2 separate regions of the Homo sapiens genome follow, and region 1 is linked to region 2. Evidence: fine-mapped expression QTL. A gene starts in region 2. The other region holds a variant in brackets. All regions are shown on one strand. Distances are from middle to middle.

Region 1 (4,000 bases), 95 kb after region 2:
CGATTCTCCCACCTCAGCCTCCTGAGTAGCTGGGATTACAGGCATGTGCTACCAAGCCCAGCTAATTTTTGTATTTTTAGTAGAGCCGGATTTTCACCATATCGGTTAGGCTGGTCTTGAACTCCCGACCTCAGGTGATTGGCCCACCTCAGCCTCCTAAAGTGCTGGGATTACAAGCGTGAGCCACTGGCCCCAGCCTATCTTTGCCTTTTATGATGTTGACTTTTTTAGTTAAAGATAGCTGGCCAATATTTCGAAGAATGTCCCTGAACCTGAGTTTGTCTGGTGTTGCTTCACCATGAGGCTCAGGGTATACACTTTTGGCAGATACCGCAGGGGAGACACTGTGTCCTTCTCCGTGGCTCGTATCAGAAGCCGCATCTGTTTGTCCTGTTCCTGCAGCTGCTGACTCTGATGGCTTGGCTGAGGCATCTGGCAGATCTGTCCACTGCGAAGTTCCTATTTATTTAGAGACAGGGTCTGGCTCTGTTGCCTGGGCTGGAGTGCTGTGACATGAACATGGCTCAATGCAGCCTCCTCCTCCCCTGGCTCAGGTGATCCTGCCACCTCAGCCTCCTAAGTAGCTGGGACCACAGGTGTGTGCCGTCATGCCCGGGTAATTTTTTGTATTTTTGGTAGAGACAGGGTTTTGCCATGTTGTCCAGTCTGGTCTTAAACTCCTGGACTCAAGCATTCCACCTGCCTCAGCCTCCCAGAGTGCTGGGATTACAGACGTGGGCCACTGTGCCTGGCCTCTGTTTTTTTTTAAACTAAGTAATTATCTTCTGGAGAGATATATTGAGACTATGTAAATAGCCTATTCCCCATAAAAACTTCACCCAGTAGTTTTTGCCTCTATTGATGATTCTTTCTTGAGACAAGTATTTTATGATGGTTGCCAAAGGTGAACTTTCTAACTCCACTGTGCTTTCCGCATTTATTAGTTGGCGTTGTACTGTAAGGAAGAGATTTCCCTTTTCCTCCATTTATTTATTTATTTGCATACACACATGCATATGTGTGTGTATAATGATATATGTGTATGTTATATAGTTGATATATATTTATATGTGTGTCATGCAGATATACGATCTCTATCTAGATACATATTATGTATATATGATATATAGATGTAGATATGATATGATTATATCACTGATCTATAATATAGACACACATATACATTGGCATGGACTCAGGAATTCTTATTTTATGCAGTGGATTAAAATGCTTTCCTATCAGTTTTATTTGGATGCTCAAACTGTCCCAGATTTGGAGAGGGGAGCTCCGTCCAGCTGGCTCTGTGTCCTTCCAGCGCGGCCCATCAATTCGAGGACTTCCTGACTTTCTGGCACAACAAGATGTTCCTGGCTCATCTTGTACTTCCCCTGCCCAGCCCTGGAATCAGCCATTTCTCCAAGGAGCCCTGGTTCCTTCTGGTGGAGAATGGTGTCTAAATAGGTGGAAAAAAAAAACCCCACTCTGGCAGAGAAAACAGGTTGAGGGAAGAGATGCTTGTATCT[C/T]GAAAACAACAGATTTGGGGAGAGTTTGGCTCCTCACCCCATCCAGACCTGATGATGGAGAGCAAAAGCCTAAACCTAGATGCTGGCAATGGTCTGAGGGGCTCCCCAGTCCTACGAGACAGGGCCCCCTCCCCTTGTAGAAACTTGGAGTATCTGACACTCGCTTTCCCAGACTCCCCTGCAGCTTGGGCACCACGTGCAAGGAGTGGGGTCCAGAAAGGTCTCAGGGGAGCGGTGGGGGCTTCAGGGGCAGCATGTGGGAATGCCAAATTTAGGCAAAATAAAATAATAACAATAAAATACGGTATGGGACACGCTTAGCCCCGAAACGTACTTATTGCTTATCTGCAGTTCCCGTTGAACTGGCCTGCTGTTGGCCAGGTGCAGTGGCTCATGCTGTAATCCCAGCACTTTGGGAGGCCGAGGCGGGCGGATCATGAAGTCAGGAGATTGAGACCATCCTGGCTAACACAGTGAAACCCCGTCTCTACTAAAAATGCAGAAAAATTATCCGGGTGTGGTGGCGGGCGCCTGTAGTTCCAGCTACTCCGGAGGCTGAGGCAGGACAATGGCATGAACCCGGGAGGCAGAGCTTGCAGTGAGCCAAGATCACGCCACTGCACTCCAGCCTGGGCAACAGAGCAAGACTCCGTCTCAAAAAAATATATAAAATAAAATAAAAAATAAAAATGAACTGGCCTGCTGTTCATATGGCACCCCCAGTGTGGGTCTAACAGGAGAGCCTGGGCTCCCACCCCAGGGGGCTGCGTGGAGCCACAGCACTGCCACCAAGCAGGCGGGTCCCCTCATACAGCTCCGTGGCAGGAACTGGGAGCCACTCCTGGCTGCAGAGCTTCCCTGCTTGGTCCTCCAGCCCTCCCTGAGATTCTGTGGAATCTTCAAGGTCCTTTTAACAAATCCCTTTTCTGCTTAAATGAACTTGGGGTTCTGGAAAGAGTCACCTTCTCCCATCTCTCACAGAGCCAGATCCAGCTGGGAAAAAAGGGAGAAAGTGCCAGGACAGTCCTGAAAAACCCAAGCGTAGAAGGGCCTATTCCACATTTCCACTCAGAATTTGCAGTATTCCCCACCCTGCAAGCTGAACACTCTCAGGAGAGGGGCCTGGAAGAGAGTCCAGGGCACAGCAAGCCTGGAGCCGCCCAGTGAGGCAGCAATGCCCTGGTTTGGTGTGGGAGGGCAGGCAGAGGCTCCCATGCCCCCAAAAAGAGACAGCCAGGAGATCCTGAAGGGGATCTCCCCACAGGGAAAGGGCATGGATGGGAGACCTGGCCCTCTCAACAGATGCCGCCAGAGAACATGGCAATGACACCTTGTAGCTGGTGCTATCCTGAACAAATGGCACACATAATCTGATAGCTCCCTGCAGACCAGGGATGCTATATGCACCCTGATCCAATTATGCCTTGAGAGGCTGAGGCAGGTGAGTCGCTTGAACCTGGGAGGCGGAGGTTGCAATGAGCCGAGATCACACCACTGCACTCCAGCCTGGGTGACAGAGTGAGACTCCATCTCAGAAAAAAAAAAAAAAGAGGAGAGGATAGGAGAAAGGGTTAATGAACCATTCCAGGGAGAGTGATGTGGACAAGAAGGATATCCCGGCCTGTCCGGGTCTGGGTGGTCCGTCAGCGCCTTCCAAGGAAGAGTCTTTGATGTGGGCAGAGCCTTCGGCGGCAGATGCCAGGCACTTACCACAGTGACAGCAAGACAGTGTCTGTTAAGACGGCAGATTTGAGCTGAGGGAGTCCTGCTCTCTTTATGGCCACAGAATCTTCTGGTGGGGACTGAGAGAGGAAGAGAGTGTGCCCGGGAGTTCTTATCCGGATAGGTGCAGTCTTTGTGGATTAGGCAAAACATCTGGTCCCTGTTATCATGATGCCTTTTAAAATGTAGGATGGAGTCTTTTTCCAGGATGGAGTTACTTATGTCCAGGATGCTGTATACAGCGCCTATATCCAGTGCCACTTTGGTGAATGAATGAGCAAATGAATGAACACACAGCTGGTGGCACCAACCCTGGAGGAGCGAGTGTGGACACTGGTCTCGTTTTCTGATTTCAGCAGCTCCAGGCTGCAGGTCAGGGTGTGTGTAGCTGTAAACCGCTGCTCCATGGAGGATGAGAGGCTGCAAAGTGTGATTTCCTGGGTAGGAAAGACAGGTGCCTCTGCTTCCACCTGCTCAGCCCTGGGGAGAAGAGTTTGCTTCTATGACTCCCCTTTTCTGACTTTTTGCCTGGGCCTTTGGATGTTTTCCTGTTAAATGAAGGGCTAAAAGGAGGCAGAAAGTAAATGCGGCTGATTTCTCCCCAGGGAGTTGACAAAGAGCATGGGGAACCAGGAGCCTTGTTGAGAGTTTCAACCTCCTCCCTCCTCGCCGATCCCCTTGCCTGGCGGGCTGGGCTCAGGAAACTGATGGAGAAAAGGGGCTCTGTGTCTCCTCCATGTGTGCGTGTGTGCGTG
Region 2 (4,000 bases):
GGAGTAGGGACCCAGTTCATTCCATTCCCCTGCACCCAAGGTTTCATGGTCACAGGCAATGGCAGCCACGTGGGTGAGAGTGTGAATTCAAATCCTGGCTCTTCTATTCAGAGGCTGTGTGGCCTCAGGGAAGTGACTTACACTCTCTGTGCTCAGTTCCATCATTGAAAAAATGAGGCTAATAACAGGACCAGCCTGGAGGGTTGTTGGGGGTGGCAGGATTTGGCAGTATAATGCTTTGGGGTCAGGTACTCAGAGGCATCTGTTTTGTTGTTGTTTGTTTGTTTGGTTGGTTGGTTTTGTTTTGAAATAGGGTCTTGCTCTGTCACCCAGGCTGGGATGCAGTGGCTCGATTTCAGCTCACTGCAACCTCCACCTCCCAGGCTCAGGCAATCCTCCCACCTCAGCCTCCTGAGTGGCTGGAACCACAGGCATATGCCACCATGCTGGCTACTTTTTGTAGCAACTGGATTTCATCATGTTGCAGGCTGGTCCTGAACTCAAGCCACCTGCCTGGGCCTCCCAAAGTGCTGGGATTACAGGCCTGAGCCATCGTGCCAGGCCTCCAAAGGCATCTGCTAACACAGATCTCTTCTCCCCTTGGATTTGTCTTTTGTCAATCCAAGGACTGTTGTTCTGGAACAGTCTTATTCACTACTGAGCCCTCCAGTGCTTGAAACAGAGCCCAGCACATAGTAGGTGCTTAATTATTGGATGACTGCATGCCAGTTGAGTGCCTCTGAAGAATGATGCTTCAAAGACTGAGAAAAGTAAAACAAAAAGAGGAAAAAAAGATAACAGAAAACATCTGCATTATTATTATCTTTTTGAGATGGAGTTTTGTTCTTGTCTCCTAGGCTAGAGTGCAATGGCGCCATCTCAGCTCACTGCAACCTCTGCCTCTCAGGTTCGAGCGATTCTCCTGCCTCAGCCTCCCAAGTAGCTGGGACTACAGGCATGCACCACCATGCCCGGCTAATTTTTGTATTTTTAGTAGAGACAGTGTCACCATGTTGGCCGGGATGGTTTCGAACTCCTGATCTCAGGTGATCCGCCCGCCTCAAACTCCCACAGTGCTGGGATTACAGGTGTGAGCCACCGCGCCCGGCCAGTCTGCATTATTCTGTATCTGCATTTGAGCCGCACCAAAATCTTAGGCAAGCCTTCCCTGTTTGAGTCCACGTCACGCAGGCAGCCTTCCATAGTCCTTGTTCCACCCATTCCCCATCCTTGTTTCTCCCACGTGCCCTAGCTCGTGGGGGCCCCAGACTCTGAGATCCCGGAGGTGTCTTGTTTGTGCCTGCTGTATAGCACAGGGCCCGGCACAGAGCGACTCGATGGGTATTTGGGGAATGAGTTAATGCTGGAGGAGCTAATTCCGGTGTCTTGGTGCGGAGATGAGCAGTGCGGACAGGCCCCCTCCTGCCCTTGGGCCCCAGCACCTTACCGCGCAGTGCCTGCATACCCGTCCACATTTTGTGACTGAGGCGGGAGCACGGGGCAGTCCCTTAGCTCTTAAGGAACGTGGATTTACCTGTTTCAAAGGTGATTTCGTCTGGCTCTAAATTGATTTCCGTATGTACCTGCACAGGTTAAAAATGCTAAATGCCTCCGGGCAAAAGAGATATGAACATGCTGCACTGCTCCTAGCTACGGGACTTGGGGCACGCTCTTCTCCAAGCCTCAGCTACTGGATCTGTGAAATGAGGTGATTTCCACCTCCCTGGATTCCTGGGAACGCGTCCTAGGGTCGTTGAAGGTAAAGTGCGGAGCCTGGATCCCCGCGCTAGCGGCCCCATCCGGAAACAAGTCTCCCTTTCTTCGTCTGCAAATTGGGAAGAGGGGGCCTAAGTTTTCTGAGCACGTGTAGAGGGTGGGAGTCACCTCAGTAACTGTGTACTCTGCACCGCGCCACAGTTCACAGCGCCCAGCCCTTGCGGATTTCATTTGCTAAAATCCTGGGAGGTCGCCTCCTTATTCCTATTTTCCAGTTGAGCTGCAGAGAGCTGGGGTTTGGTAAATTTGCAAGCCCCTTGTGGGAAGCGCTTGGCACCGCGCCAGGCGCATAGTAAGCGCTCAATGAAAACTATGCTTGTGTGGCCAGTGGCGAGGGAGCTGAGCGTCTCCTTGTCCCTAGCCGGCCCTGGAGGCCAGCGGCCCCGCCTTCCTCGCCCACCCGGCGCCCGCGCCTCAGCTGCCCCCCGCCTCCTTCAGCCCGCTGAGCCTGCGGGGCGGGGCCGGGGGCGGGGCCGGTGATGCTCGGTCCTACCAGCGCCGCCAGCGATCTGGGGGCGTGGCCTCCGGGCTCCGGGGAGCCTACAAGAGGCGGTACGCTGAGCCCCGGCACCCACTCGCATCCCAGGGCGTCTCCGGCTGCTCCTATTGAGCTGTCTGCTCGCTGTGCCCGCTGTGCCTGCTGTGCCCGCGCTGTCGCCGCTGCTACCGCGTCTGCTGGACGCGGGAGACGCCAGCGAGCTGGTGATTGGAGCCCTGCGGAGGTAAGTGTGATTTCCATGCTTCTCCCTTTTGCAAACTGTTACCCCCCCGAGAAGCTGGAATAACTAGGACAGATGCCACCTCGCAGGGCTGACTGTGTGCTGGCACCACACCGAGTGCTCTGCTTGCATAGCGGAACACAGCTTTGCGACATGCCCTTTTGCAGATGGAGAAACTGAGGCTCAGCGAGGACAACTCATTTGTCCAGGACCTCGCAGCCAGGACTCCAAGGACCCAGGATTCAACGCCGATCTGAGCGCAGAATCCTGCTCCTTAGAGGCTGTTTACTCTCTTGCCTTCCTCGTGCAGTTCACTAGCATTTGTTGCATTCCTGTGTTCGTAGTGGGTGTCAATAACTGGAAAGCTGATGGCATGGATATGGCAGGCATTAGAATGTGTCCTACTCATGTCTGGAGGACCAGGGTGATCTAGTGGCATGTGCATTCAGCTGCAGTTTAGAGGGCCACGCCCCTCTGTGATTTCATTTGCAAGGTAGCCTTCTTCCCACATTTCAGATGAAGATGCTGAGGGTCAGAGAGGTGAAGTAAGTTGTCCGGGCAGAGCCAGGGCTGGAACCCAGCTCTGTCTGTCTCCAGAGCTTCAAATGGATGTGTAGAGACTTGGGGCCATGTCAGGGTTCTGCAGTCTGGGGGAACACGTTTCTGGGTTTCTTTAGCCAGAGCGGGCACCTGCATAACTCCTGCGTGGGGAGAGTTACCCTGGAAGCGGAGGGCTCACTCTGGAGTGTGGGGGAGATCGGTCGTCCCACGTGGACAGAGCCAGGGCTAGTCCCTCATGTGCTGCAGACCCAGAGCCTCCCTTGCTAAGGCTGGGCTGGTGGACAAGCCAGGGAGGACTTCGCTGATGCCTGCTCATCGCAGTCCAACTTGAATTGGGCGTCTCTCAGCCAAAATGTGAGTTGCTGCCCTGGCTGAGAGAAGCATCCCGTGCAAATGCCTAGCTTGCCTTGCAACCGAGAGTGGGGTTGTGAGTTTCCCCTTTGGGCCTTTGGACCTCTTGCCCTGGTAGAATGGGGTGAGCCTGCTTTCCCCATCCAGGGTCTGATGTCTGACAGTGAGGAGAGCCTGCAGAACAGGACCGGGGCGTGGTCCTTTCCAGTAGACTGAGGCCATGAGTTGTGACTGTCGGCTGTCCCAGGGCTCCTTGGGTTGTATGCACCTGATTTTCTGCTTCTGCCCCTGATCTGGCTGTTCCCACTCAGGAGAAGGGGTGGGTGTGTGACTGTGTTGCCTGTGCGGCAGGCACGCGGTCTGTGCCACGCAGTTTACCTGTATTGTCATCGCTGCAACACCCCGGGGAGTAGGCCTCTTGATGCCCACTTCACAGCTGAGGAAACTGAGGCTCAGCAAGGTGAAGTGCTTGCCTAAGATCCCCCAGCTGGTATGGAATGCTGTCACCCCCAGGTGGGTCCTATCTGCACTCTTGACCCTGCTTTCTTTAAGACACTTCCCTGCCCACTGCCAACTCCACCCATGAACCTGAC

The links. PIP is the estimated chance that this variant, and not a neighbour inherited with it, causes the effect.
Region 1: its variant is the best candidate, but not a certain one, in a credible set for the expression of CRISPLD2 in whole blood (TOPMed, PIP 0.58).

Annotation. Positions count from the first base shown.
Region 1 is chr16:84,913,122-84,917,121 of GRCh38, forward strand. No RefSeq gene overlaps it. Among named protein-coding and RNA genes, the nearest start is that of LINC02176, 13 kb to the right of the region's middle. The variant C/T (reference allele first, on the strand shown) is at 1,524.
Region 2 is chr16:84,817,636-84,821,635 of GRCh38, forward strand. CRISPLD2 (cysteine rich secretory protein LCCL domain containing 2) reads left to right here and starts at 2,350. Exons shown (of 15, transcript NM_031476.4): 1 at 2,350-2,498. RefSeq lists a silencer at 2,123-2,312.